Homo sapiens: one gene and its partners. The protein of the gene in region 1 purifies or fractionates together with the protein of each later gene. This does not show direct contact. Each region holds a gene or a part of one and is shown in the gene's direction. Other genes may lie near its edges. The genes, in order: PKN2, TMEM9, PRKAR2A, TMEM9B, SLC12A4, IARS1 and ERLIN1.

Region 1 (3,899 bases):
GAAACTACAGTATTCTGTCTTGTTAATTACTGTAATAGCATGGAGTAATGTTTTTAAGTATTGTTAGTAATTCAGGAGGCTTATTCAACAAGGAAGCATTAATAAACTATGTAAACTTTGGTGGCTAGAGGTTTCAAGGTATAAGGAAGAATATTTACTGTAGTAAAAATAAAAATCGGCTGTTTAAAATGGCCAATTTCTAATTTTTATCTCATAACTAATTTGTTGTGTTGTATTCTCTTTTTTTATTTGAAGTATAGCAGAAAACAGACATTTTTGCAATGCCAAAGAAACTAAAGTCTATTTCCAAGAAACCTGGATTAATGAAAACTGTAAAGAATCTCAGAATGAAAGTGTTGGCTACAATGGTAATTTTGTAGAATGCAGACCAAATATTGAGCAGTGTACTAACAAAGCTACCTTGTTGATTATTGGAGATTCATTTTCTTCATCAAAATGCCCAATAAAGTGTTGGTCTGGGAATCTTAAATTCCATTCTCAGCAGATTTTATTTAGATAGAGGTAACTTGCTCAAGTGGAAAGTTGAGATAGTTACCCTTAAATTACAGGGGTTAATTTCACCAAACAGTTATGTAGTATCTACCAAAGCTATATTGGAGGATATAAAGATGACAAGATAGGTTTTTGCTTTCCAGAAGAGAGTATAGATAATTGTACTAGAAGATAATTATAAGAGACTACAAATAACATTTTAAAAATTATTTGCTATATATCAGACATTGTACTTAGTGTCCTATACACCTTATTTGATCTTCACAACAATCCAATAAGGTAGGTGTTATTTCCATGTTGTGGATCAGGAAACAAGTTCAAGAATGTTAAGGAAATTGCTCATGGTTACATTGTGTGTCTGAGTTTGAACCCAGGTCTGTATGTTTCCCACTACACTATTCTTTTTTTTTTTTCTGGAGACGGAGTCTCGCACTGTCACCCAGGCTAGAGTGCAGTGGTGTGATCTCTGCTCACTGCAATCTCCACCTCCCAGGTTCAAGCGATTCTCCTGCCTCAGCCTCCCAAGTAGCTGGGATTACAGGCACCTGCCACCACACCCGGCTAATTTTTTGTATTTTTAGTAGAGACGGGGTTTCATTATGTTGGCCAGGCTGGTCTTGAACTCCTGACCTCGTGATTCGCTTGCCTCGGCCTCCCAAAGTGCTGGGATTACAGGTGTGAGCCACCATGCCCGGCGCCACTACACCATTATTTAAATTGCCACAGTTCTGGGGAACTATAAATGTTTTGCATCTAATGTTATAGTTGTATGAACTTTCTACAAATTGGCCAAAAACGTAATTAACCAACATTAACTTTACACTACTTGTTAGCTCCGTCTGTAACAAGGAAAAATGATTTCTACATTCCACTTGGTAGTCTATAATTTAGCAGTGTTTTATTATTGTAGATACAGTCTAATATTTCACAAAGAATAATAGTACAAATAATCTTTTTACAGGGTTTCTTCATTAAGAATTACTGTTTCTAATGAAAGGTGTCACATGCTTGCCCAAAACTTCCCAAAAGATTTAACATTACTCTGTAGACTGTGCTTTGCTTTAAAATTTTATACTCACATGTAACCTAGCTCTGTGTTTGACACTTAGTAGGTGCGCAATACATTGATGAGAATGCTCCATTTGTCACGTAGGAGGAGGGATGTCTAGGTTATTTTAAGAGAAGTTCATTATAATCTTTGACATATGAAATTACGTAGTTTTCTTTAATTTACATTTCTAATCCCTTCTCCCAAAAATATTCTCTTTAAAAGTACAAAAGGGATTTCTATAGTAGTTACATCATTCTTCCATATAGCACACTGGTAGTTTACTCATTTAATGGAAAATGAGAAGACGGCATCTAATTTTGCAGTGACACTGGAAAGTGGAAGGTCTGAGTTGGGAGGATTAAAATTTTAGGGTGGTTTGGGGGTTGGTGGTATGAGAAGGTAAACAGGGTAGTTAAGACAGACTTTACATTGTTTTCAAATTAGAAATGTAATGCACATGTATTACAGAAAATCCAGAAAATGTGGAAAAGCACAAAAGAAAATAAAAGTTGCTCATAGTTCTGTCACTTAGAGACTGACAGACTTTTTCCACCTAAAAGTCCCATGGCTGTAGAGTCCATTTTTTCTTTTTTTTCTTTATCTCATTTTACTTACTAGAATTTTGAAGAAAAATGAAGCTCAGAGAATTTTAAGATAGAAATCACAGTAGGTTAAAAACTTTTTTCTTGCCACTGGTTCTAGATGAGTGGATCTAATTAGCTTTTATTGCCTTTTTTAATCTCAAAATATTTCAATTATGAGTCACGGCTTTATTAAGAAGAAAAGTGCAGGCTGGGCATAGTGGCTCACACCTGTAATTCCAGTGCTTTGGGAGGCTGAGACAGGCGGATCACCTGAGGTCAGGAGTTCGAGACTAGCCTGGCCAACTTGGTGAAACCCTGTCTCTACTAAAAATACAAAAATTAGCCAGGTGTGGTGATGTGTGCCTGTAATCCCAACTACTTGGGAGGCTGAGGCACAAGAATTGCTTGAACTCAGGAGGCGGAGGTTGCAGTGAGCTGAGATCACGCAACTGCACTCCAGCCTTGGTGACAGAGTGAGAACCTGTCTCAAAGAAAAGTGCAGTAGTATGGATTTAGTAATAGACAGTAATGAAGTATAGCAACAATTTCTTTGAATAATATAGCAATACAGTGTGTTTTTCCGGCTTAGGTTTGATTGTTGCTGCTCTTATAGACTACCACAATGTTTGTAATTTGCAGCGCATACTTTGCTGAATTAAACATACTAAATAACTTTCCAAATATTTCTTGACTACCAAGATAAAAGTCTGTGTTAAAACTAGTGTTACTAAATGATGGCTCTAAAATGGATTTTTTTGTCATCTCTCATTAGTGTAATAGAGATTAGGTCTAGTATCATGCAATTCCTACCATTCACATAGTGTTGAAATAGGGACAAGTAGGGGCACCTTTTAGACATCATCTCTTTATCCCAGAGCTTAGCATCTGATTCCTTGGGCTCTCTTATTTCTGCTTTTTGAATTTGGCAATGGTAAATTTTCATGCCATTCATCAGAAGCATGTTTACTTTTAAACAAATAAAGTAGTAGTTTGTAAACATCACCTAAAATAATGTTACTTTCATACCATAAATGGTATTTGAATAAAACAGTTAATTCTACATTATTCCCTCATAAAATATACTGTGCTGATAATTGTCAAATGTCTATATTATTTCAAAAGCCAATTTTACTCTACAGTATATGACATTTAATATGATCAACTTTTGATATACAGCAGAGTTCAAACTTGACAGCAAAGTTGAAAACTAGTTAAAAGCTTTAAAAAGATTTAAAATTTAGAGTGGGAAAAATATACTAATGAAAAAGTAATTCCTTAATGAAACAGAAATAGAGAATCTTTATCTTGATGCATGTCTAGCTTGTCTTAATTTTATCTGATGAAATCTTGTTTGAAACTAGCTCTATTATCATACTTGGTTTTTTTTTGCAATCACAAAAATGAAATTTGTGTAACATTATATACATAAATATTGCCTGTAAAAAATGAAGATCAAGAAAGCATGGGACAGTGTACTTGATGACAGTAAACACCTTAAATGTGAAGGTAGTGTTGAAGTGCCTCATAAAGATGAGTGGATATACAAGACTTACATAATATTGTTAGGATTTATCTCTTTTAGAAATTTGTCAGTGACTTATCAAATTGGTGAAAGTTTTACTGCCCTGGCTCATAAGTACCTTAATTTAATGGAATGTAGTTATGACAAAATTTGGAATTTATTTTTGATTATAGAAGACATACCACACAATACATGTGCTGAGAGTTTTTTATTTATTTTATTTTTATTT
Region 2 (3,899 bases), about 110 Mb from region 1:
GTCAGAAGTAAAGACCTGTGGCTGAGGGTCTAGATTTGGGTTCTGGCCTCACTACCACTATGGAGATGCCACTTTGCCTCCTAAGCCTCTTTCCCTGTTTTTAGATGTGGAACCTATGATCTTTATCCCACCTTACGCAAGAGTGCTGTTAGATGAAAGTGGGTCTACTCTTCCTTTGGGAATCATGTAGTTACTAAGCCTGCTCTGGCCAGCACCCAGCTAGGTACTGGGAATATGGAGATGTATAAGACATAACCCTGTGTTCAAGGAACGTACATCTCCTGGGGAGACAGCACGAATAAAGATTGGATTACAATGCAGTGCATTGGCGGGGGGTTGGGGGGAGCTGGCTATTGGGCACAGGTGGCTAAGCTGAGAGTTAAAAGATGAGGTGGCAAAGCCATGCCCTCCTGGTGAGAGTGTGGGTGTGGCTCCTTCAGAGAGCAGCCTGGCAGATCCGTGTGGCTGGAGGTTGGGAAAGTGGGTGAGGGAGGCGTAGCAAGAGATGGAACTGGAGTGAGGTGGGTTGGGACCCCTGGCAGAGCAATTGAGTTAGCATTGGCCCTAGGGGCTCTGTGGAGGCACTGACCGGGCCTAAGCTGGGGAATGACATGACCAGAGTTGCATTCTGGAAAACCACTTGGCTGCCGTGGGAAGGTAGTATGTGTTAGAAAGGCCAAACTCGAGGCAGGAGGGCAGCGCGGAGGCTGGTGCGGTTGTCCGAGGAAGATAGGATGAGGGCCTCAGCTAAGACACAGCAGTGGGAGAGAATAAAGGAGATGGATTCTAGGAATTTTTAGGGAAGTAAAATCACTGGCCTTTGGTGATTTTACTTAGATGAGAGGAAGGCAGTGTCAAAGATGATTTCCAGGGTTTGACCCGGACAGTGAAGTGGACGGTAGAAGTGTTCTCTCTGCCATTGCAAATGGGGAGCCAGTTTGCAGGAGTAGGGAGTTGAGGGCAAAGGGTGTGCAGGGGCGGGTGTAGAGTTCATGGTCTCTATGGGACATGCACATAGTGACTCCTGTAGCTCATAGAGGAGAGCGGCCCTGGCTGGAGATTCTGATCTAAGATCCGTCAGCTTCTGAGTTGAACCTTTGGGACAGATGAGCACATGCCGGGAGAACATAGCATGAGATGAGGAAGGCGGCTGGGGGTAGAACCCTGGGAACGTTGATGGTTTTGGAGCCAGCCCTGTAGGCAGTTTGGAGAGCTGGTTTTGATGTGTAAGGGGCATGGGCTGTGAGGCTGTGGGTTAGGAAGGGTTTCTGCCAGCCTAATCCTTTATAAGCCCTTGGCCCTCTCTGGGAGCACCCTTCACCTTTGCCTAGCCCCTACCTCTCAGCTCCCCTGGCTACCTGCTTCTCTGGTCTTGAGGCTCTAAGACGTGGTGGCCCTGCCTCGACAGCCCTGTCTCTCTCTGTTGTAGCAACTGCCTGCACGTGGTGGAGCCCATGCCAGTGCCTGGCCATGACGTGGAGGCCTACTGCCTGCTGTGCGAGTGCAGGTACGAGGAGCGCAGCACCACCACCATCAAGGTAACGCCAGGGTCTCAGGAAGCCAGTGGGATTCCCACACGCCATTCTCCAATCGCAGACTGGCCTACACCCACAGTTTTTCACTTTATTCTGGAATGTCCCAATGGCTATGAGACTGGCTTCTAGGCTGGCCTAGTGCAGACACTGGGACCCACATCCCACACCTTCCTGGAGCCAGCTCCCTTCTCTGCTCTCTTTCCAGTAGTTACCATTACAGTGAGAGGGGAGAGCCCTGGGAGAGCTGCTGGAGACTCCTTTTTCCCTGCATTCTTTACAGTTTATTTCGTTCCTCTCCCTTCTTCTATTCATCCAGTAAATCTCTTTTCGGTGCCTGCTATATTCTGGGCAAGATGCTGCCAATGGGGAGGTTGGGCTGCCCTCCTGGAGCTTAGTCTAATTAAGCTTCCAAAGTGACTAAGCTCCTCTAAAAAGCATCAGAGCTGTGGACTAGGGCTGGGTGTTGGGTGCTGGGAGAACATCAGATTGGTTCTTTTGTGTTTTCCTGAACCACCTTCTCATTGATCATTTGGGTGAATTCAGGAAAGAGATGATAGACACAGTCACCACCATAGACGTCACGAGGTGTCTGTTCATTCCTGCACCAGGCAGAACTTCCCGTGTCTTCTAGAGGCTGTGAAGCCGCCCTAGCAGAGACCGTCATGACCCCCAGCCCCCCAGTGCGGCTTCCTAGTCCAGGTTCTAACAATCCTGGGCCAGGCACCTGGCACACACAGTACTCACTGATTACATAGCCATTTCTTTTTTTGTTTGTTTTTTAGAGACTGGGTCTGACTCTGTTGCCTATGCTGTAGTCCAGTGGCACGATCACAGCTCACTGCAGCTCTGACCTCCCAGGCCCATGCAACCCTCCCACCTCAGCCTCCTGATTAGCTAGGACCACAGGTGCACATCACCACACCCAGCTAATTTTTTAAATTTTTGGTAGAGACAGGGTCTCACTGTCTTGCCCAGGCTTGTCTCGAACTCCTGGCCTCAAGCACTGCTCCAGCCTTGGCTTCCCGAAGTGCTGGGATTATAGGTGTGAGCTCCATGCCTGGCCTAATGTAGCCCTTTCTGTTCCAGTTTGTAGCATTTTTCTGCTTGTCCTTTGAAGAGTCTATAAATAGCATTGGAAAATAATTCTCATATTTAAAGGCACTGCTGGGTCCTCCATCAGGTTTCTCCTTTCGAGGCACATTTAGGGGGCGGTGGTCTTCACTGCTGTCCTTCCTGCCTATTCCAGGGAGCCCTGTGCTGTAGCTCCTCTGTGTTCTCACCACTCAGGGAAAAAGCAGCTGTCTGTCCTTCACTCCCAGCCAGTGCCCTGTGCAGACCCAACTCCTTTCATCCACCTGAGGCAGCCCCTCCTGCAACTGTCATTCTCCTTCTCTGAACTTGCTCCAGTGGGCCTCACCCTCCAGGGACCAGATGCCTGAGACCTGAAATTCAGAGCCAGATGTCACCGCTGCTCCCTGTTTGGCCGGGAGGGAACTTCCTGGCATGGGGACCTCATCAGATACAACTTCCTAATCCCTCGTGTTTCCCCCAGTCCTCCTACCTAGGAGGCTCCCCTCAACTTCAGCCTATTGAAGACCCAGCCTCTGTTCTCCTTCCGCCTTCCTGGGGTACAGGTGAGGTCTGATTATTTGCCCTGTTTAAACAGGCGTGAACGCGGTGCCCCAATCAGGTGGGACATTGGTCCAGTGGAACTTGGCTATTGGCTGAGCGGGGCACCCAGCTTGAAAGTCCTGAGGTTCTTTTTTTCACTCTTCTTCACAGTCTAGGTAGGGCAGGGCTGAGATCAGAAGCCGGCAATGGCCAGGCATTGTGGAATTAGGAAAAGCATTTGAGAGGGAGTCAGCAAGTCTGGGTTTGAGTCACACCTCCACCATCTGGTAGCCTTGGGATCACAGGTGATCTAGCCCAGCAGTTCTCAATCAGATGATTACAGCCCCCCCAGGGGGCATTTAGAGGTGGGTGAAGGTGCTTTTGTGGTCCCAATAACAGGTGTATTACCAACACTGTTACAGGGACCATGGATGCTAAATGTCCCACCCAAAATCCCAGAGCACCCACATTGAGAAACATTGAATTTGCCTCATTAAATCTGTCTTTTCTGTAAAAACAAAATGACTCCAGCTTGTGAAGCACTGTGTATGTAAGAGATTCGTGGAGTTGTTGTTCTACCCTTGGCTTTCCCCTCCCTGCAGAGGGGCTGATGGGAGGGCAGGCGTGACCTTCACCCCCAGCACACACCTTCTTACCAGCCCTAGCCACTCTGCTCAGGGGCATGCCATGAGTGGGCCAGCGCGCCCCATCCGTCTTGCTCTCCACAGGAGCAATGAGCCCACCAGCCCAGGT
Region 3 (3,899 bases), on another chromosome or scaffold:
AGATTGCGCCACTGCCTCCAGCCTGGGCAACAGAGCAAGACTCCATTTCAAAAAAAAACCAAAAAACCTTCTATGTTCTCCCACTGTTGGGAGCTCTTATTACCAGGTAATAGATCATACTTCAGAGGACTATTATGTAGTCCTCTGAAGCTTATTGACGTCCGTCTTACTGACACGTGCAGATCTCTTGCTTCCTCTCACCTTTCCTTGGCTTCTAGTGTTTGTTCTTTTGATGTCATTTTCTTTTGACCTTAAGTAAGTTTCATCCATTGCTATTAGAACCTGGGGAAGGTTAAAGAGTTCTGTCCTCTAACTTTCTATATTTGACACAAAGGCATCCTTTTGGCTAATCTAACACAAATCAGAGTTCACAGTCTTCAGTGATTAACCAAATTTGTAAGATGTAAAGATTACTAAACAGTGGGCTAGATCATTGTAATGAGTACTGTCTGATAATTTTCTTTGTCCGCTGTGTTTGTATTTTTAATTAAACATAAATAGTATTGGACTTTTCCAGGTATAAGCTTATCTGCCTATGGTTCTGGCTCAAGAGCACGGAGAAGATACATGGTTGGTCTAGGTTGGGTGATATGCTTATCCTAGAACCCAGTACTGAGACTACGAGGAGGAAAGGCTCAGATTGGTCAGGTGTGGGTCCTGTGGGTGGAGTTGGCCCCACTAGAACACAAGGACTAATCAGACTTACCATAAAAGGGGAGAAAAAAGCTCCCTTGGAAGAGATAAAGGACTAACAAAAATATGATGTCTACTCTGAGTCACATCTCTAAATGTATTTGTTTTCTAGGAGCCGTTACTATTAATAATTCTTTTAATTAGAAATTGGAATATTCTATAAACATTTATTAAGATAGGTAGGACCAGATATGATAAGCACTATAATGAAGGAGAGTATGAACGACAGTGAGAACATAGAAATGGAAGTAATACATATGGTTTCATTGAGGAAATGCCATTTGAGATGGGCTTAAAAAACAAGTGCAATTTCAATGTTTGGGATCAGGGAAAGGTCCTTCAGAGCAAGAAAACAATATTAGCAAAGGCCAGTGGTGTGAGCTGTGTTTCAGAGCAGGTATCCTGGTATGGTAAGAATGTAGTGCTGAGATTCAGAAATGGGAGATGTTAACTGGCCACATTTGCTTCTGAACCTAAGGTGCTTTAAGTAACATTCAAAGGACCTTCAAGTCATCCTGAAGGTTCTAGGCCTGTCTCATACTGGGTTTTCAGGAAGTATGTCAGGAGATGTGAGAAGTCAATAGTGTTTTCTTCATGGTCTGTGCTCTTGAAGATAGAGTGCTATCTATCTTCAAGGTAGATAGGTAGTGGTACAGAATGGACATTAATTAAGATGATATTAAAAGGGGCTTATTGTAGGTCCCTTTTGTCAATGTCTCTCACTGGACCAAGGCTTCTCAAAGTGAGGTCCCAGGACCAGCAGCAATCAGCATCATCTGAGGATGTTAGAATTGTTAGGAATGCAAGTTCTGGAGCCCCCCACCAGACCTGCTGAATCAGAAACTACATTTTATGTTGTTTCATTTGTTTTGATCAGCTTTGTTACAGTGTATTTTACATACAATAAAATTACTAAGTTTAAGTGTACAAATCGGAAGAGTTTTGTAACCATCCCCAAGTGGTATTTCCATCACCCATACAGTTCCTTGTTTTGTATTTGCAGTCAGTACCCTCCCCCACACTCACATTCCTGGAAACCATTGATGTTTTCTGTCACTGTAGAAATTCCTTTCTACAATTTAGTATAAATGAAATCATGTAATGTATAGTCTCTGTGTCTGGCTTCTTTCTCTTAGCATAATATTTTTGAGATTTATTCGTGTTGTATGTATCAGTAGATCGTTCCTTTTTATTGCTAATAATATTTCATTGTACAAATGTAATTTTTTTTTCTTTTTGAGACGGAGTTTTCCTCTTGTTGCCCAGGCTGGAGTGCAATGGCGCAATCTCAGCTCACCATAACCTCCACCTCCCAGGTTCAAGCTATTCTCTTGCCTCAGCCTCCCATTACTTTTTCTTTTTAATGAGATACAGTCTTGCCCTGTTGCCCAAGCTGGAGTACAGTGGCATAATCTCAGCTCACTGCAACCTCTGCCTCCCAGGTTCAAGCGATTCTTGTGCCTCAGCCTCCCGAGTAGCTGGGACCAGAGGCACGTGTCACTCTGCCCAGCTAATTTTGTGCATGTGTGTGTTTTTTTAGTAGAAATGGGATTTCACCATGTTGGCCAGGCTGGCCTCCTTAGTAAATACTTAAGAGTGCAATTGCTAAATTATATTTTAACTTCATAACAAACTGTTTCTTAAAATGGCTGTACTGTCTTGTATTCCTACCAGCCATGTATGAAAATTCCAGTTTCTCTGCATTCTCACCAATAAATAGTATTTACAGCCTTTTTTAAAAAAATTACAGTCAGGGTCTTGCTATATTGCCCAGCCTGGTCTCGAACTCCTGAGCTCAAGCCATCTGCCCGCCTTGGCCTTCTAAGTGCTGGGATTATAGGTGTGCACCTCCGCACCTGGCCTTCATTTTCTTAATGGTATCTTTTGAAGAGAAAATGGTTTTAATTTTGACAAGTCCAGTTTATCATCTTTTCTTCTTTGTAGTTGTGTACTTTTGCTGCTGTATTTTAGGAAATCTTTGCAAAATCAATAATATGTTCTCCTAAGTTTACTTCTAAGACCAGCACTATTCAATAGAAATAATATGTGAGCCACATATGTAATTTTAAAAATTTTTGGTCAGGCAGGGTGGCTCACGCCTGTAATCCCAGCACTCTGGGAGGCTGAATAGCTTGAGGCAGATAACTTGAGGCCAGGAGTTCGAGACCAGCCTGGCCAACATGGCGAAACCTCGTCTCTACTAAAAAGTAATAAAAAAAATTAGCTGAGTTTGCTGGTGCACAACTGTAATCCCAGCTACTTGGGAGGTTGAAGCACGAGAATCGTTTGAACTTGGGAGGCAGAGGTTGCAGTGAGCCAAGATCATGCCACTTGCATTCTAGCCTGGGGGACAGAGCAAGACTTGGTCTCAAAAAAAATAAATAAATAAAAACTTTCAGTAGATATTTGAAATGGTGAACTTAATTTTAATATATTTCATTTAACTCAGTATATCTAAAATGTTGTTTCAACATCTAAGTGATATAAAACTTTATTAATGAGATATTTTACATTTTTAATACTGTCTTCAAAATCTAATGTATGTTTTCCATCTATAGCACATCTAAGTTTATACTAGCAACATTTCAAGTGCTCAGCCACATTTGACTCGTGGCTAATGTATTGAGCAGTACAGCTCTAGACAGTCAGAATTTTAGCTCTTACCTTAGGTCTGTGATCCATTTTGAGTTATTTTTATTGTTTTTGTTTTGTTTTTTTGAGATGGAGTCTCCCTCTGTCACCCAGGCTAGAGTGCAGTGGTGTGATCTCGGCTCACTGCAAGCTCCGCCTCCTGGGTTCACGCCATTCTCCTGCCTCAGCCTCCCAAGTAGCTGGGACTACAGGCGCCCGCCACCACGTCCGGCTAATTTTTTGTGTTTTTAGTAGAGACAGGTTTCACCGTGTTAGCCAGCATGGTCTCAGTCTCCTGACCTCGTGATCCTCCTTCCTCTGCCTCCCAAAGTGCTGGGATTACAGGTGTGAGCCACTGCACTCAGCCTTGTTTTTGTTTATTAGAAGCAAGGTCTCACTCTGTCTTTCAGGCTTCAGTACAGTGTGCAATCATAGCTCACTGCAGCCTTGAACTTCTAGGCTCAAGCAATACTCTTCCCTTAGCCTTCCAAGTAATGCCACCACACTAAGCTAATTTTTTTTTTTTTTTTTTTGAGACGGAGTTTTGCTCTTGTTGCCCAGGCCAGAGTGCAATG
Region 4 (3,899 bases), on another chromosome or scaffold:
AGTCCGAGGCGGGTGGATCACTTGAGGTCAGGAGTTCGAGACCAGCCTGTCCAACGTGGTGAAACCCCATCTCTACTAAAAATATAAAAATTAGCCAGGTGTGGTGGCACGCACCTGTAGTCCCAGCTACTTGGGAGGCTACGGCATGAGAATCACTTGATCCTGGAGGCAGAGGTTGCAGTGAGCTGAGATCGTGCCACTGCACTCCAGTGAGACTCTGTCTCAAAAAAAAAAAAATAAAATCCAGTTTCAGAACATTCCCACTACCCCAAAAAGATCCCTCATGCCCATTTACAGTTAATTCCCATTTCCAGCCCTACTCGGTCACTAGTCTACTTTCTGTCTCTGCATACATGGACATTTCATGTATATGGAATCATATAATATATAGTCTTCTGTGACTGGCTTCTTTCATTTAGCACAATGTTTTTGATGTTTATGCAAGTTGTAGCATGTATCAGTACTTCGTTTCTTTTTATTGCTGAATAGTATTTCACTATATGAATATGCATTTATCAGTTGATGGACGTTTGGATTATGTCTGGGTTTTTACTATTATGAATAATACTGTTGTGAATATCTGCACATATGTCTTTGTATGGATATATATGTTTTCCATTCTCTTGGGTTAATTCCTTAGAATGGTAAAATTATGTTTAACTTTTTAAGAGACTGCCAGATTGTTTCCCAAAGTGGTTGTACCACTTTACATTCCCACCACAGCGTATGAGGGCTGTTTCTCCATATCCTTGCTAATACTTGGTATTGTCTATTTATTTTATTGTAGTCCTTCTAGTGGGTGTGTCACACTGTACTTTTTCTCAGTACATGAATTAAGGTCACAAGAAAAAATCACCGGCCTAGAAAATACTTTTGTATATCTAAATTGAGCTAAAGAGTAGCTGAATTTAGGACATTATGTTCAGCTGGGAAAAGAAACAAACTGCTGTGCTAGCAGTGGTGACAGGTGATTAGCAGTAGGTGAAGTTGGAGTCTTGAAGACTTGCAAAAAAATCCCAAAGATCTTTCCTCTTTTTTTCTTAAATAATACTTTGGTGAAGAGTTGAGTTTATTTCTTATATTGCTATCTGGTTTGTATAGAAATCCTATAGGCTTAGCAGATATGTCAGTCAGTTTTACTATTATCATACAAAGTTCTGATTTATGGGCTTGAACAAAGATGTAACTTAATTTTCAATTTCCTTTAGGTTACCATTATAATTTATCTCTCCATTTTGGGCCTTCTACTTCTGTACATGGTATATCTTACTCTGGTTGAGCCCATACTGAAGAGGCGCCTCTTTGGACATGCACAGTTGATACAGAGTGATGATGATATTGGGGTAAGTTCCCAGCCTGCCCTAGCTGCTCATGGCCAGTCCCTGTCATCATTCGATGTGAAGTGCAAGTGAAAAATAGTCATATATAGATGTTCACGTGCTGAAGCAGATCCTCAACTAGAGAAGCTAAAAACAGCTCTGATTTCAGTATATACCTCTTTATGAAGAAATTGCTTGATGAAGCCATAAATGTGATGATTTAAACGATGATCTTTGGTGAGCATGCTATACAGGGCCTTGCTTTCAGTACCAAAGGCACAATTTTATTGCCATTCCCTGTTTACATTGAGAAAAGTATCAGAGATGGTTTTCTCTCCAAGCTCTCCTGCCTGAAACACCTTCTCTGTCAATATCACCAAATATTTTAGAAGGCAGAGAGGTTTTCATCAAGGGAAGTGTGAAGATCATGATGTTCTTTTCTTAATGAAGTACAACTTGATAACCTGCTGATGTTTTATATTTCCTTTTTTTCTACTGCTTAAAAAAAAATCTGTGGGCCAGGTGTGGGGGCATACACCTGTAATCCCAGCACTTTGGGAGGCCAAGGTGGGAGGATCACTTGAGCCCAGGAGTTCAAGACCACCCTGGTCAACATGGTGAGACCCTGTCTCTACAAAAAATAAAAGCATTAGCCGGGTGTGGTGGTGCATGCCTGTGGTCCCAACTATTCAGGAGGCTGAGACAGGAGTGTCACTTGACCCCAGGAGTTTGAGGCTGCAGAACTGTGATCACACCATAGGACTCCAGCCTAAGCAACACAGCAAGAAGCCTGTTTAAAAAAAAAGAAAAAAAAAATCTGAGATCTTTAGAGAAAAATAAAACCATGACTACCATCACTCCAGATTCTCTTCCTGTCTTTAAATCTCTCACACACACACACACACACGTGTGTACATTATATATGTTTATATATATATATATATAGCGTGTGTGTGTGTGTGTGTGTGTGTGTGTGTATATAGTTGGCATAATCTGTATAAATTGCTTCATGGTCTCCTTTTTGTTTTAATATTCGTTTATTCAAAAATGTCCAGAAATTGACTTAGTCCACAAATCTGTTTTTCAGTGTAGCTTAGAGAATGTTTTTTTTGTTTTTTGAGACGGAGTCTCACTCTGTCGCCCATGCTGGAGTGCAGTGGCGTGACTTTGGCTCACTACAACCTCAGCCTCCCAAGTTCAAGCAATTCTCCTGCCTCAGCCTCCCAGGTAGCTGGTTCTACAGGCACCTGCCACCACGCCTGGCTAATTTTTTTTGTATTTTTAGTAGAGACGGAGTTTCACCATTTTGGCCAGGCTGCTCTTGAACTCCTGACCTCAAGTGATCAGCTCGCCTCGGCCTCCCAAAGTGCTGGGATTACAGGTGTGAGCCACTGCGCCTGGCTGGATATTTTTGTTTCATCATTACCCTGTATGAAATTGTTTCTGAATTTTCCTTTTTTTTTTTTTTTGAGACGCAGTCTCGCTCTGTTGCCCCGGCTGGACTGCAGTGGTGCGATCTCAGCGCACTGCAAGCTCCGCCTCCCGGGTTCACGCCATTCTCCTGCCTCAGCCTCCCAAGTAGCTGGAACTACAGGCGCCCGCCATCGCGCCCGGCTAATTTTTCGTATTTTTTTTTTCTAGTAGAGACGGGGTTTCACTGTGTTAGCCAGGATGGTCTCAATCTCCTGACCTCATGATCCCCCTGCCTCGGCCTCCCAAAGTGCTGGGATTACAGGCGTGAGCCACCGCACCCAGCTGAATTTTCCATTCTTTCATTATTATATATAATTATTTTTTTAGAAATTACTTTTTCTCGTGGATTATTATATTGGACTATGTTCCTTAAAATGGGTAAAATTCAGAATAGTTTTAAGGTTCAATTCAAAAGCCAAACCCAGAGTGAGCCCTTGCCAGCCAGTCAAAAGTCCTTTTACCCTGGAATGGCTCGTGCATCTATAGGCATAGACGTTGAAAGTCTTAAACGACATCCTTCCTTTACAGCGTTAAATATCTGTTCCTGATTTCAGAAATAGACAATATAATAACACAAAACATAAGAGAAATGGATGTAGAGATGAAAACATGTAGGGCAGGCATTTAATTGGTGGGATCACATGCTCAGTAATTGTTTTGTCCACCAGTGATTGATTCTGCTTGTGTATTGACTATTTGAGAACACTGTCTCTGTGAGGCCTGGCTGACTCTTGGATGTCTTTTAAACTGATTCTAGGCAGAGAGGTTTTCTGACCAGAGCTGTGAATTTATGGTAACAACTCTACAAAAATAAGTGAATTTTAATTTTTAAAACTGTTGCTTATCCAAGATGTGAGTTCTGCACTATTTATATACTTTAAAAATGTTTTTGTTGAACTATCAGTTTTCATTTTTTCTGTTTTTGTTCAGTGTAGAGCATTTTAAAGCAAATAAAAGTGAGTACAAATAGTTAAGCTCACTGCAAGTAGTCACAATATTTACTATATCATATATCCATGACACATCATCGTTATTACCAAAGCATTACAGTAAAACATGTTTTGTATTTATTGTAATTTTATCAGGTGTGAAAAGAACAAACATAAA
Region 5 (3,899 bases), on another chromosome or scaffold:
ACCGAGATCCCTGGCATCCCCGGGGCAGCTGCTGGTGTGCTCCAGGGTGGGTCCTCCCTCCCGTCGTCTTGCTCTTGAGCCCACAGGCTGAGCAGGGGCACAGAGCACAGAGCTGTCCTTGTGTGGCCAGCTTGGGAACGGGGGCAGGACTGGCCGCCTTCCCAGCCCCCCAGTGTCCTCCCAGCCTGGCTCCTGGCAGCCGAGTTTGGAGTGAGTGGAGCCTGTCTGGCCAGCGTCCAAGGCCTGCAGCAGCCTGTCTTCCCCAGCCACCAGCCCCTGACACTGCCTGGGGATGTTCCCACAGGATCCATAAAGGCCTCTGTGGAAGGCGGGCAGTGGCGGGCTCTGGGTGACGGTGGTTCAGCCACCTTTGTCTGTCGACTTCTAGCTGGGCAGCTCCTTCTCTGTGGTCAGGGTAGCCCTGTGGCTGACGCTGCAGTCATTGGGCTGAAGCTGTTCCCTGAGTCCCCAAAGTTGCCCTGCATCTGCGCCTCTGGCTAGGCTGCCCCAAACTACCTGGGGTAGTGGGGGGCAGCTGTGGTGGTGACACAGCTACCCCTGCAGAAAACCTGTGGAGCGCCTACCTGGAGAAGGGTGACATCGTGGAGAAGCATGGGCTGCCCTCCGCAGATGCCCCGAGCCTGAAGGAGAGCCTGCCTCTGTACGTGGTCGCTGACATCGCCACATCCTTCACCGTGCTGGTCGGCATCTTCTTCCCTTCTGTAACAGGTGAGCCCTGCCTGCCTACCCACCCAGCCCTGTCCCCAATCCCGGGGAGCCCCTGAGGGAGTCTCATCTGTTTTTGGAGGCATCATGGCTGGCTCAAACCGCTCTGGGGACCTTCGTGACGCCCAGAAGTCTATCCCTGTGGGGACCATTCTGGCCATCATTACAACTTCCCTCGTGTGTATCCTTTCCCAGGCCTGGGGCAGGTGGGGCAGAGGACGGGAAGCGCTTGGCCTGTGTACGTTGCCAGGTCACATGCACAGACACCCCACACACTCATATATAGCTCCCCTTCTCATGCACACATGCACATACACACCACGAGACTCCCAGCTGTAGGTGTCCTGGTAGTCTGGCTGGGGTGGGGGCACGTGGTACTATTCAGGGACAGTGGGGTGGCAGAGGCCGAGTTTTCCTTGACGCCGCCGCAGACTTCAGCAGTGTGGTTCTCTTTGGTGCCTGCATTGAGGGTGTGGTTCTCCGGGACAAGTGAGTGAGCTGGGCCCCCCTCTTTAGCAGCGGCTGGGCTTTGGCCTGCCCTCACACCAGCTCCCAACCCCGTGGGTGGTCCTAAGCCTGCTGGCTGCCTTTGGTGGTCTGTGCCATCCTTCCGGACCCCTGACATCCCTCACTCTGGTGGCCCCTGCAGGTATGGCGATGGTGTCAGCAGGAACTTGGTGGTGGGCACACTGGCCTGGCCTTCACCCTGGGTCATCGTCATCGGCTCCTTCTTTTCAACGTGTGGCGCTGGCCTCCAGAGCCTCACAGGGGCACCACGCCTATTGCAGGCCATTGCCAAGGACAACATCATCCCCTTCCTCCGGGTGAGCCCCTCTGCACTCCCCCATGGCCTGGCTGCTCCCAGGCCCTCGCCCGGCTGGGGAGAGAGATAGGGAACACAGATGCAGCACGTCCTGCCCTTATTGGCCCCCGGGGCCAGGCGGCCATCCATGAGGAGCTACTGAGAAGTGCCCTGGGCCTGGCACTCACCTGGGCCTGGAGCTGCCTGGACCCAGAATCTTCATGGCCTGTTTAGGGCTCATCCAAAGGAGAGAGGCCTGGTGAGGTGGAATCAGGGAGACTGGTGACACCCATAGGGATAGACACAGGGGCGGCCTGAGCCCCCAAGGCGGGCCCTGGGGGTGAGGGAGGCCAGGCTGGGGTCTGGGGCCCAAGGTGTGGAATGGGGGTGACAGGACCCAGCTTCCTTCCTGGTGCACACAGGTGTTTGGCCACGGGAAGGTGAATGGTGAACCCACATGGGCACTCCTCCTGACGGCACTCATCGCCGAGCTGGGCATCCTCATCGCCTCCCTCGACATGGTGGCCCCCATCTTATCCATGTGAGCTGGGGCCGGGCAGGGCAGGGGGATGGGGAAAGGCTTCCTGAACCCCAGCACCTCCCCGTGGCTGCGTCTGGTGTTGGAGGTCCAGCTGGGAGATGTGGCAGGCTGCATGGGGAGATGTGGCCTGACAGGGCTCAGCCCACCCCTGCATTTAGGAGCAAGCCTGGCACCTATGCCAAAGCTATAAGGTGACCAATATGTCCACACCTCCCTGAGGCCCCCAGAGCAGGTGGCCGGCAGACCTTCCCACTGGACAGGGCAACCACCGCGTCCCTCATGCCTCCATGAAGCCACTGCTGCCCCTTCCATCTGTTAGTTTGTTTTTTGGTTTTTGTTTTTTTTTTTTGAGACAGAGTCTCACTCTCTCACCCAGGCTGGAGTGCAATGGCATGATCTTGGCTCACTGCAATCTCCGCCTCCTGGGTTCAAGCAATTCTCCTGCCTCAGCCTCCTGAGTAGCTGGGATTACAGAAATGCACCACCACGCCCAGCTAATTTTTTGTATTTTTAGTAGAGATGGCGTTTTACCATCTTGGCCAGGCTGGTGTCGAACTCCTGACGTCAGATGATCCACCTGGCTCGGCCTCCCAAAGTGCTGGGATTACAGGCGTGAGCCACCATGCCCAACCCATCCATTTTCAAAGTCATTTGCTTTTAACATTCTGGAATCAGCCAGGCAAATCTGCGTGCCAGTGCCTTGCAGGGAGTGGCCAGCATGTGGTGACTCCCAGGGACCCCGAGGCAGCGCTTGTTTGGTTGACTCTGTCCAGGCTGGGGTCCTCGCCCACCCTGCTCCGTGGCTGACGCTCCTTCTTGCTTGTGCGGTTATGAAAGGCCTCCTCTTCCCTGCCCACTCAGCCTGCAGACTTGACAGGGGCCCTGTACCCCTGAGCAGGCTCCATCCCAGCTACAGCCAGGCCTGCTGGAGCCAGCACCCTCTTGTCCACCCCCCCACACCCCTTCCTCTCACCCAAGAGCACACCTGAAACTGTTTTGCCACAGCCATCTTGGGTGGTGACCCCCCTTGTGCCCAAATCAGAGGCTACATCTCAGCCTTTATCTCGGGCCTCCTGCTGGGAGCCCCTGCCCCCTGGCATGCCCTGTGTGGGTCCTCCTGCCTTCCTGCGCACCCGTCCTCGGGTGCCTTCCTGGAGGGCTCATGCAGCTGGCCCTGCCCATGCGTGGGACTCCCACGCCCACCGCAGTGACTCTTAAGTATCTCTGACTGGTTGCATTCAAATGGTCCAGCTTATCTTCCATCCTCCCCTTCATGCATGGCAGCCTCTCATCCAGCTGGTCACTCAGGCCAGAGGCCTGAATGTGGCCTAGAGTCTCCAGGCACTGAGCTCTTCCTGCTGCCCCTGCACCACCCTCTTCAGCTCTGCCCTGTTACTCCCCTTCCTACCTCCTCCAACAGCAAACCCTTGCCCATCCTCTGCGATCTGGCTCCGAGGACTCCTCCACAGTAGTCTCATTGCCTCAGGCCATGGAGGTGGCAGCAATGAGGTTGAGAAGACCTTGCTGAGCCATGCAGGGCAGGGCCGGGCCACGCCCCGTTTCTGGGCCAGGCCCAGCCTGACATCAGGTCCCCAGCTGCCGAGGAGGCTGCTCTTCGCCAACCGCCCTCTGTGCCGCAGGTTCTTTCTGATGTGCTACCTGTTCGTGAACCTCGCCTGTGCGGTGCAGACACTCCTGAGGACCCCCAACTGGCGGCCCCGGTTCAAGTACTATCACTGGTGAGCCATGCCTCTGACACGGGAGACCCTGGGGAGGCCAGGAGCCTCATTCTGGGTGAGGCTTGGGTTTCCTGGGTAGGGAGCTCTTGAA
Region 6 (4,631 bases), on another chromosome or scaffold:
CTTATCTAAAGAAAGTTAAAATGTTTAGCCAACTGTGGTTATTTTAGATTGTGAGGCCCAACTCCGGCCAATGGAGAAAGGGTACAGGGGCAGGGTTTGTGTCAGGGATAAAGGTTCTCGTGCCCCTTTGTTCTGGTGTGCTCTCATGGTGACTGGCCAAGGAGAAGCACCCCTCTGCGCAGAAGTAAAATTGCTTTGCTGAAAATCCTTTGTTTGAATGTTCAATTTCCTTAGGATTTTGAGCATTATTTCCAACACAACAGTACTATTAATATAAATGTTTCTCAATCAAATTTTTAAATAATTAGACTTGGCCTACCTCACCTTTGTCCAGGAGCCCTCTGTCTGGCTCTATCTGGGCTCTCTGGATAGGTGACAAAAATGAACTGAACAAGGTGGCAACGTGAGGAATGTGAAAACTTCAAACACATTCCAAATACTTTCAGTTAATTAACAAGATTTGCAGCTATTAAATTATGTACGTTATGTGAGTATAGTCAGAACACTGAGTTACCCATGATGGAGGACATGAAACCACTTTAATCCTTCACACAGGGCCAAGACGGTAAGTAAAGTTAAATATATGCTGAACAGACTATCAAAATGTTCCTAAACTTAATAAGAAACTGCATTCTACCTATTCTAGGCCAGATAAATTTTTTATATCCCTCTAACGGATACAATAGGCAGCTACGGAACTACTCCCAATTTGGCAAGATCCAGAATTTCCTTTAGAGGCTCTGGGGCCAAAGCCCGAGGCCTACTGCCCTTTGCAAGGCTCCAGATTTTAACCAGCAGATCAGTAAGGTACCAAGCCGACTCATAGCAATGATAATAAGTATGCAGGCCGGGTGCAGTGGCTCATGCCTGTAATCCCAACAGTTAAGGAGGCTAAGGCAAGCAGATCGCTTGAGCCCACGAGTTTGACAGCAGCCTAGGCAACATAGCAAGACCCCGTTGCTACAGAAAATACAAAAATTAGCCGGGCGTGGTGGCGCTAGCCTGTAGTCCCAGCTACTTGGCCAGGGATGAGGTGCGAGGATCATCTGATCCGGGGAGGTTGAGGCTGCAGTGAGCCATGACCGTGCCACTGCACTCCAGCCTGGGCGACAGAATGAGACCGCTTCTCAAAAAAAGAAAAAAAAATCGTTTGTGCAATGTTTTCATTACCGGAAACATTTTAAGTAAAATACAATAAAACTTTTAAATCTGGTTGTCAGACCCTTCCTTCCCTTTTGTTATTATCGTTTCACGTAGCCATTTATGATAGGAGAAGCGGCTTTGGGGTCGGCGGCTCAGGGCCCAAAAGTATAATTATTAAAGCCACCTCTCCGGAAGTTGCTGTTTGTCGTTATCAATTTAGGTACGAAGTGTCCAGTCAGATAAATACTGACAAAAGCAAACAAGATGAAGAACATGAGCCCCGACCTCGGCGCCCCTTCCCAGTGGGCCGTCACCTACCCGGAGGTGCCCACAACCCGAGTGAGACCTCGGTCTACACTACTGCAACGGATACAAGCAGCACGCACAGCGCCGCCCTCAGCGCTGGTTCGTTTTCCACGTGGAGGCGCAAAACCAGCAAGCACCACTGTCGCACCATCCGAGCCAGTGGGCGCAATCATGTCCGGCGCGACCAATCGGCGCCTGGCTTGTTGGCAGGTGTCAGGCAGCGCGCACTGATTGGCCGGTGCGGAGCCTGTCTCCTTCACTGGATCCCGCATTTTCAGCGCGTTGCATCACCTCCGTGCGCCCGGTTGCAGCGTGGACGCCGGATGAGTTGCTTTTAGGCTTGCTGGCCCGCGGGGCTGTCCAGGCACGCGAGGCCCCTCAGGTACGCCCTCTCTTCCCTGCAGGATCCGGCCCTCAAAGACGAGGGTCACGCACGCGTTACAACCCCGAAACAGTAGCACAAGATTTAATTTTTAAAAGAGCGTGTTTCTTCGGGGCTTGCCGTTCGTTCGTTTCCAGCCTCAGGAATTTATGGTCGCCTTTTTGAATGAGGTAGTGTTTGAAATGAGTAAAATCTTTTTAAAATGATATACATAGTATAAATTGATATAGCTGTGACTTTATGTATAGGCAATACGTATTTTTATATGTCTTAATTTATTACCTTCAATGGCTGCGAGATACTTATTTTATTGATGTACCGTAATTTACTTCAGTCACCATGAATATTTAGATTGTTTTCAGTTATTTGCCTGGAGAAACAATTATTCGGTGAATGTCATTGTATACACATTTTGTACATTTGCATGAGTATACCTGTGGAGTCTATGTTAATAGGATATAACTAAATTGAGGAAACGTTTGAGACGGTCCCACTTTCAGGTTACATTTGACTTAATAGATTATGAAGACCTGAGAATAAAAGGAGAAACAGAAATGGATTTAGAGGAGAATGAAAAGGGGGAACAGAAATAGGCTTATAGGTAGGATCCACATGACTTGATGATTAATTGGTTGTGTGTATCTTCTGAGTAGTGTCAGGGGTGACTCAAAAATGTCATGCCTAAGTAATGGGAAGAATATTGGAACCACTAATACAGTAGTTTAAAAGGGAAGCAATTCTGGAAGGAATTATGAAATTTTAAACAAAACATGGTTTTAGTGTGCGTTTCTAAAATATATTGAGGCAAAATAATATGAAGTAATGTGAATAATATGTAGTTAATATCAGGGAGGGTGGTCTCGAAATTGCTGAACGGGAAGTTGAGGTTAAGGTGACCTGAAGGAGTTGTGGAGCAGCGAAGAGTCAAGGGCCTGGATTATAATAAGAGGGAAGCAAAGGGGATGGCATCCCTCTGCACAACAAGGTTGTTGTGCAAGGTTAACCTGCTCTGTCCCTGCCCTGTGGTTGCTGGATGCTGTTGTGCATGGACAGCTCTCCAGTGGATTCGATGGGCCATAGCAATCCTGTGATTTATGCATGGAGGCTGCTTCTCCTCAGCAGCTGCCATAGCCCGGTCGCTGGTACATGATTCTTCCTGAATAGTCAATGCTGTTATACTGAGTGTTTATGCTTGACGTAATAATGCAGTGATTCTTAATCTTTGGGGAAAGTAGAGACTCCCTAAAAAACACAGTAAAAGCTGAATGAGCTGGCCAGGCATAGTGGCTCATGCCTGTAATCCCAGCCCTTTGGGAGCCCAGGGCAAGAGGATCGCTTTAGCCTAGGAGTTGAAGACCAGCCAGGGCAACATGGCAAAACCCTGTCTCTACAAACCACCCCCTCCCCACCAAAAAAAAAAAAAAAAAAAGCTGAGTGTGGTGGTGCACACCTGTAGTCCTAGCTACTTGGCGGGCTAAACTGGGAGGAACACCTGAACCCAGGGAGGTCAAGGCTGCAGTGAGCCATGATTGTGCCACTGCACTCCAGCCTAGGTGACAGAGTGAGCCACTGTCTCAAAAAAAAAAAAAAAAAAGGAATGATCCTCTTCTCAGAAAGCTTAAATCTTATTTTCTCAAAAATAAAAATTCAGATAGATATTCCTGAATAATTGTTAGAACAGTGCAAGAGTGGTGATGTTCAGACTTTGATGTGAATGCTCATCCCCTAGGGATCTTGTTAAAATGCAGGTTCTGACTCGTAGGTGCGAGGTGAGGCTGGTAAGTCTGCATCTCTAATAAGCTCCCATAGATGTGGGCCATAGTAGGACCAGCCTTGAAGAGATTAGAATGTGTTGGTATCTAAAGGTCTGTTAGTCTTCAGATAACAATCCCATAAGTTTCAGTTGGCCTCTGATAAGGTACACAATGAACCTAAATAAATCAGTAAATGCACAAACACTTATTTTGGTCCTTGAAAGGCTAGAGGTTATAATAAGAGTTGAAGATCTAAAATGCCTTAAACCTTCTGTTTAATACCTTTTAATGGCATACTGTGATCAGAAATAGCTATTTCAGTTAGTTAAACAGCCCAACTGTTCTTGTCCTGTTTTTTCTTAAATTAAACTCAGAGGCACTCACACATCTGAAAAATTAATGAGGGTAAAAGAAAATGAAAGATACTACTTGTCACAGACTTTTTTTTAAATGATAACTTGAATCAATAACTTGATTAGACTATGATGCTTTTGATGCTTTCAAAACTGTTTGAGGTATGTAGGTGTCTTTTCCTGTAGAGTTGATTACCCTGGTCTGTTGTGGTTCTTGAGTACTTAAGATTTTTTATCTTCTCTGTTGTTCCCTTATTAGCAATTTTATCCCCTTCTGATCTGATACTGACTTGGAAAGCTCGTCACCCACCTTGTTAGAATTGTTAAGTAAATATAAATAGACTTTGAGAAGGAAAGGTCTCAAGGGTGGCTCACTAGATACTTAAGTCATAGATTGATCAAGTATCTCTGCATGAGGTTATTAGCAAAACATTTAAAAAGACACTTTAAGACTTCTCTCATTAGGGACTAAACCAGAAAGGTATAGGGCTCATCCTTCATAAAAATCATGAATAAGCAATAAAAAGGGTAAAATGGAAAACTGGAATCTATATTTGAATGTGAGATTCTCATCTTTTTAGCTTTAAGATTTTTTAAGTTTTACCAGTTTTCCTCAAAGAGAAGATGAAGTTACTTCAAGAGAACTGATTTCTGTCATGTGAGTGTAGGTAAGAAAATTCTTAACTACTTTGA
Region 7 (3,899 bases), on another chromosome or scaffold:
ATTTGCATTCCTTTGGTTGTTAATGAGGTTGAACATCTTTTGATACATTTATTGGTCATTTATACTGTCTTCTGCTGATTGCCTATTCATATCTTTTGCCCATTTTTCTGTTGGATTGTTTTCTTTCTTACTGATTTGTTCTGTATAAATTTGGAATTTTTATACACACACGTTATTTATGTTGTAGAAAAAAGTTAGATACTAGGAAAATGATGAAGAATAAAATGAAATTCACCAGTAATCTTATTATGCAGGGATAACATCATTTGTTATATCTTTCTCGACTATTCTTAATGTATATGAACAAATGTTTGTAGATATAAATGCATACATGCTCAACTAAAGCAGAATCATACCATACTTGCTTTTTTCACTAACATTGTCTATGAACATCTTTCCAAAACAAAAATATAGGTTTGGTAAATCATTACTTTTAATGGTTATATTTAGTGAATCTCTATGGTTTCAAATTTTTTACTACTGTATGCATGTTGGAATGACCAAGCTTATATATTCTGTACATCTTTTTAAATCCCTCTCTTACAATAAATTCTTGAAGTGGGATTGATGATCAAAGTGTATGCCCTGTTTGGGGGCTTATTGATACATACTACCGAATCACCTTTTAGAAAAATTTTAGCAGCTCCCCCCCTCATTAGCAGTGTTGGTAAGCTGTAGTTCTTACACATTTGATTGCATGATTGTACCCAAATAATTAGCAGATGCAAGCTTTCCCTTTCTCTCTTAATCCTTTTGGAGAAAATTAGTCTGTTATTTTGTGTTAATTATTGAAGTTGAATACCCTAGGTTATTAGCTGTTTTTATTTCATTTATAAATTGTTGGTTTTGCTCATTTTTGTAGTTAATGGTTTTTCTAACTGATTTTAATAAGCTATTTTTGGCTGGGCATAGCGGCTCACATCTGTAATCCCACCACTTTAGGAGGCTGAGGTGGAAAGCTCCCTTGAGCCCAGGAGTTTGAGGTCAGCTTGGACAACATAGTGAGACCCCTTCTCCACAAAAAATTTTTTTAAAAAATTAGGTAGGTGTGGTGGCATGTGCCTGTAGTCCCAGCTACTTGGGAGGCTGAGGTGGGAGGATGACTTGAACACAGCAGGTTGAGGCTGCAGTGAACTGTGTTCATGCTGTACTCTTGTCTGGGCAACAGAGCAAAACCCTGTCTATAAATAAATAAATAAATAGCATTTGTATATAGAGAACTTGTTTTTGAACCTTACCCTTTGAGAGGGGTAGAATTCGTTTTTAAAAATAAACTTTTTCATATGTTAGTTATTGTAGCTCTTTTTTATATTTATAGGAAACATTTTCTTCAAATTTTTTCTTTGTCATTTAACTTTGTTTTTTCCTTGCTGATAACTTTGAAGTGTTCATGTTTTACATAGTAATTTCAGTGATTTTGTCTTTATGGTGTGTTGCTGAGCTGGCATGTTTTAAGAGCTTTTCACCACCTTAAAAGTATAGCAATTAAAATTAGAAATTATAAAAATTGTATCTGCTTTTACAGTTGTATTCTTAGATTTAAATCTTTTAATTCATCTGCAACCCATTTTGATCTCAGTTGCAAGGTAGGCCTTCAGCTCCATCCCCTCAACCCCAAATTGGGTAACAGCGGTAATTACTGAATAGTTTATTTTTCCATCTTCCCCCTTCTTTGAAATAGTTTTTATGTTACATACTGCATTCCATTATATACTAGAGTCTTTTTCTGAACTTAGTTCTGTTCCATTGATCTTCCCATTCCTACTCTTTCATTAGTTATTGAGTCCTTGGTCTTTTCTCATCAAATCGAATTTTCTCCTGTGTTTTTCATCTTGTCAGTTAATGGTAACTCTTTCCCCTCAAGCCAATCTAGAAGTGTAGGAGGCATCTTTGACAATCGCCTCACCCTCAGCATCTAATCAGTCCCTATGTCCTGCAGATTCCACCACCAAAATCCATGTATTAATAAAACTGACCACACCTCCATCTTCACTGTCATCTCAAGCCAAGCTACCAACTCTAACCTTGACATGTGCAGTAGCAGTAGCCGCCTGTCTTCTTTCCCCACTTTCACTTTTACCTTTGTCTACTTCATTTTCTGCACAACAGCCAGAAGGATCTTTTGAATTTACTTATATTTATTTGCTGTTTTTATAAAAAGTTATTGATTGAAAAAATGTAGTTTTGTTATACGTTCTTAAAGTGGTAGAGATCTCCATTGTTTTAGGGTTTAAAAAAATTTTAAAATAATTTTTATATTTTGCAATAACTTAAGCATACCCTGAGAAGAGAAGAGCTCCTTTGCTTTGGTTGCTTTTGTCTTGTTATAAAATTTTTTTTACAATAGTTGGAATGCATTTTAAGAATTTCAAGGCTGTTTTTGAGCTTTGTTATTTTTAACACATTACCATATGGTTGTGATAATTCAACTTTTTATTTTAAAATCTGGCAAGAGACATCATCTTTTAAAAAATAATGGCCTTTGCTGTTTCTGCCAGCTTAATCTTCCAGATGAGTTTTCATTATCGATATTTTCAAGCTATATCAGGCACCTAAGTGGTCATATACATGTTGTTTTGTTTTGTTTTGTTTTGAGACAGGGTCTCCCTCTGTTGCCCAGGCTGGAGTGCAGTGGCATGATCATAGGTCACTGCAGCCTTGAACTCCTGGGCTCAAGTGATTCTCCTGCCTTAGCCTCCCAAGTAGCTAGGAGTACAGGTACACACCCCCACATCTGGCTAATTTTTTTATTTTTTGTAGAGATGGGCCTTTGCCGTGTTGCCCAGGCTGGTCTCAAACTCCTGGCCTCATGCAATCCTCCAATATAAGTTAAAAATAGAAACATAGTTTATGGCTTTACTTTATCATATCAGCCTTTTTGGTTTTTAGAATTTCTGATTTAGGGGAGAAACTCATATCCTAAGTTAAATTAATACCAATGGATTTAATGAATTTTAATGCTGTTCAATATGTAGTCTTTTTTTTTTTTAATCATTGAGGAATGTGATTGATTCTTGGTAGATTTATCTTATATCTACAACTTGAATTCACTGCCTTCTAGTAATTTTTGGGTTACTATTTTTACAGTCACTATTATATTTTTTTCCTTTCCATATATTTATATACCATTTTTCTTCTTGAAAAACTACTCTGGCAAATTAGAATGATGAAAATGGTCATCTTTGATTTTTTTTTTCCTATGTTATTTAAGGGAGTGACTATATTATAGACTGGCTTTTGATATATAATATATGCTTAAAACCCAGGGGTCAGTTTCAATACATATATTCCTTTCATTAGCCATTTTTTTCCTCCATTCACTCTATGTATGTGAGTGGGATGGGGGCATTATTTTATTATTTGAGGTTAAGAGCAGAGGTTTAATAGGCAAAAGAAACAGAAAGGAGAATAGCTCTCTCTCCTGTGAGGGAGAGGGGTGCCTGAGTGGGACTTCCCACTTTTACTTTTAAAATCTCTTTTGATGCAACTTACTCATGGTATCTGTACAGTAAGTGTTTATGTTTTCACATATTTGAAAATCTGTGAGATTTCCCAAGATTGGCAAGCACAATGTAGTATGTTCTTCAGCCTCATTCAGCAAAATAGGAGTCTTCAAAAGACAGTCCTGGCCGAGTGTGGTGGCTCACGCCTGTAATCCCAGCACTTTGGGAGGCCGAGGTGGTTGGATCACCTGAGTTCAGGAGTTCGAGACCAGCTTGACCAACACAGTGAAACCCTGTCTCTACTAAAAAACAATACAAAAATTAGTCGGGCTTGGTGGCGCATGCCTGTAATCCCAGCAACTAAGGAGGCTGAGGCAGAAGAATCGCTTGAACCTGGGAGGCGGAGGTTGCAGTGAACTGAGATTGCACCACCGCACTCCAGCCTGGGTAACAAGA

The links.
Region 2: the proteins of PKN2 (region 1) and TMEM9 fractionate together in Homo sapiens (co-fractionation; one large-scale study listed by BioGRID). This does not show direct contact.
Region 3: the proteins of PKN2 (region 1) and PRKAR2A fractionate together in Homo sapiens (co-fractionation; one large-scale study listed by BioGRID). This does not show direct contact.
Region 4: the proteins of PKN2 (region 1) and TMEM9B fractionate together in Homo sapiens (co-fractionation; one large-scale study listed by BioGRID). This does not show direct contact.
Region 5: the proteins of PKN2 (region 1) and SLC12A4 fractionate together in Homo sapiens (co-fractionation; one large-scale study listed by BioGRID). This does not show direct contact.
Region 6: the proteins of PKN2 (region 1) and IARS1 purify together in Homo sapiens (affinity purification with mass spectrometry; one large-scale study listed by BioGRID and IntAct). This does not show direct contact.
Region 7: the proteins of PKN2 (region 1) and ERLIN1 purify together in Homo sapiens (affinity purification with mass spectrometry; one large-scale study listed by BioGRID and IntAct). This does not show direct contact.

The regions. Positions count from the first base shown.
Region 1 is NC_000001.11:88,687,175-88,691,073, forward strand, and holds part of PKN2 (serine/threonine-protein kinase N2), read left to right. Parts: intron 1-3,899. UniProt on the Homo sapiens protein: PKC-related serine/threonine-protein kinase and Rho/Rac effector protein that participates in specific signal transduction responses in the cell.
Region 2 is NC_000001.11:201,144,379-201,148,277, reverse strand, and holds part of TMEM9 (proton-transporting V-type ATPase complex assembly regulator TMEM9 isoform a precursor), read left to right. Parts: intron 1-1,429; coding exon 1,430-1,538; intron 1,539-2,942; exon of another isoform or gene 2,943-3,169; intron 3,170-3,899. UniProt on the Homo sapiens protein: Transmembrane protein that binds to and facilitates the assembly of lysosomal proton-transporting V-type ATPase (v-ATPase), resulting in enhanced lysosomal acidification and trafficking.
Region 3 is NC_000003.12:48,760,794-48,764,692, reverse strand, and holds part of PRKAR2A (cAMP-dependent protein kinase type II-alpha regulatory subunit), read left to right. Parts: intron 1-3,899. UniProt on the Homo sapiens protein: Regulatory subunit of the cAMP-dependent protein kinases involved in cAMP signaling in cells. Type II regulatory chains mediate membrane association by binding to anchoring proteins, including the MAP2 kinase.
Region 4 is NC_000011.10:8,950,647-8,954,545, reverse strand, and holds part of TMEM9B (transmembrane protein 9B isoform a precursor), read left to right. Parts: intron 1-1,208; coding exon 1,209-1,343; intron 1,344-3,899. UniProt on the Homo sapiens protein: Enhances production of pro-inflammatory cytokines induced by TNF, IL1B, and TLR ligands. Has a role in TNF activation of both the NF-kappaB and MAPK pathways.
Region 5 is NC_000016.10:67,947,970-67,951,868, reverse strand, and holds part of SLC12A4 (solute carrier family 12 member 4), read left to right. Parts: coding exon 1-46; intron 47-564; coding exon 565-729; intron 730-808; coding exon 809-907; intron 908-1,157; coding exon 1,158-1,215; intron 1,216-1,375; coding exon 1,376-1,550; intron 1,551-1,950; coding exon 1,951-2,069; intron 2,070-3,709; coding exon 3,710-3,808; intron 3,809-3,899. UniProt on the Homo sapiens protein: Mediates electroneutral potassium-chloride cotransport when activated by cell swelling. May contribute to cell volume homeostasis in single cells. May be involved in the regulation of basolateral Cl(-) exit in NaCl absorbing epithelia.
Region 6 is NC_000009.12:92,290,811-92,295,441, reverse strand, and holds the start of IARS1 (isoleucine--tRNA ligase, cytoplasmic), read left to right. Parts: upstream 1-1,744; 5' UTR 1,745-1,831; exon of another isoform or gene 1,832-2,001; intron 2,002-2,848; exon of another isoform or gene 2,849-2,984; intron 2,985-4,519; exon of another isoform or gene 4,520-4,606; intron 4,607-4,631. UniProt on the Homo sapiens protein: Catalyzes the specific attachment of an amino acid to its cognate tRNA in a 2 step reaction: the amino acid (AA) is first activated by ATP to form AA-AMP and then transferred to the acceptor end of the tRNA.
Region 7 is NC_000010.11:100,168,712-100,172,610, reverse strand, and holds part of ERLIN1 (erlin-1), read left to right. Parts: intron 1-3,899. UniProt on the Homo sapiens protein: Component of the ERLIN1/ERLIN2 complex which mediates the endoplasmic reticulum-associated degradation (ERAD) of inositol 1,4,5-trisphosphate receptors (IP3Rs).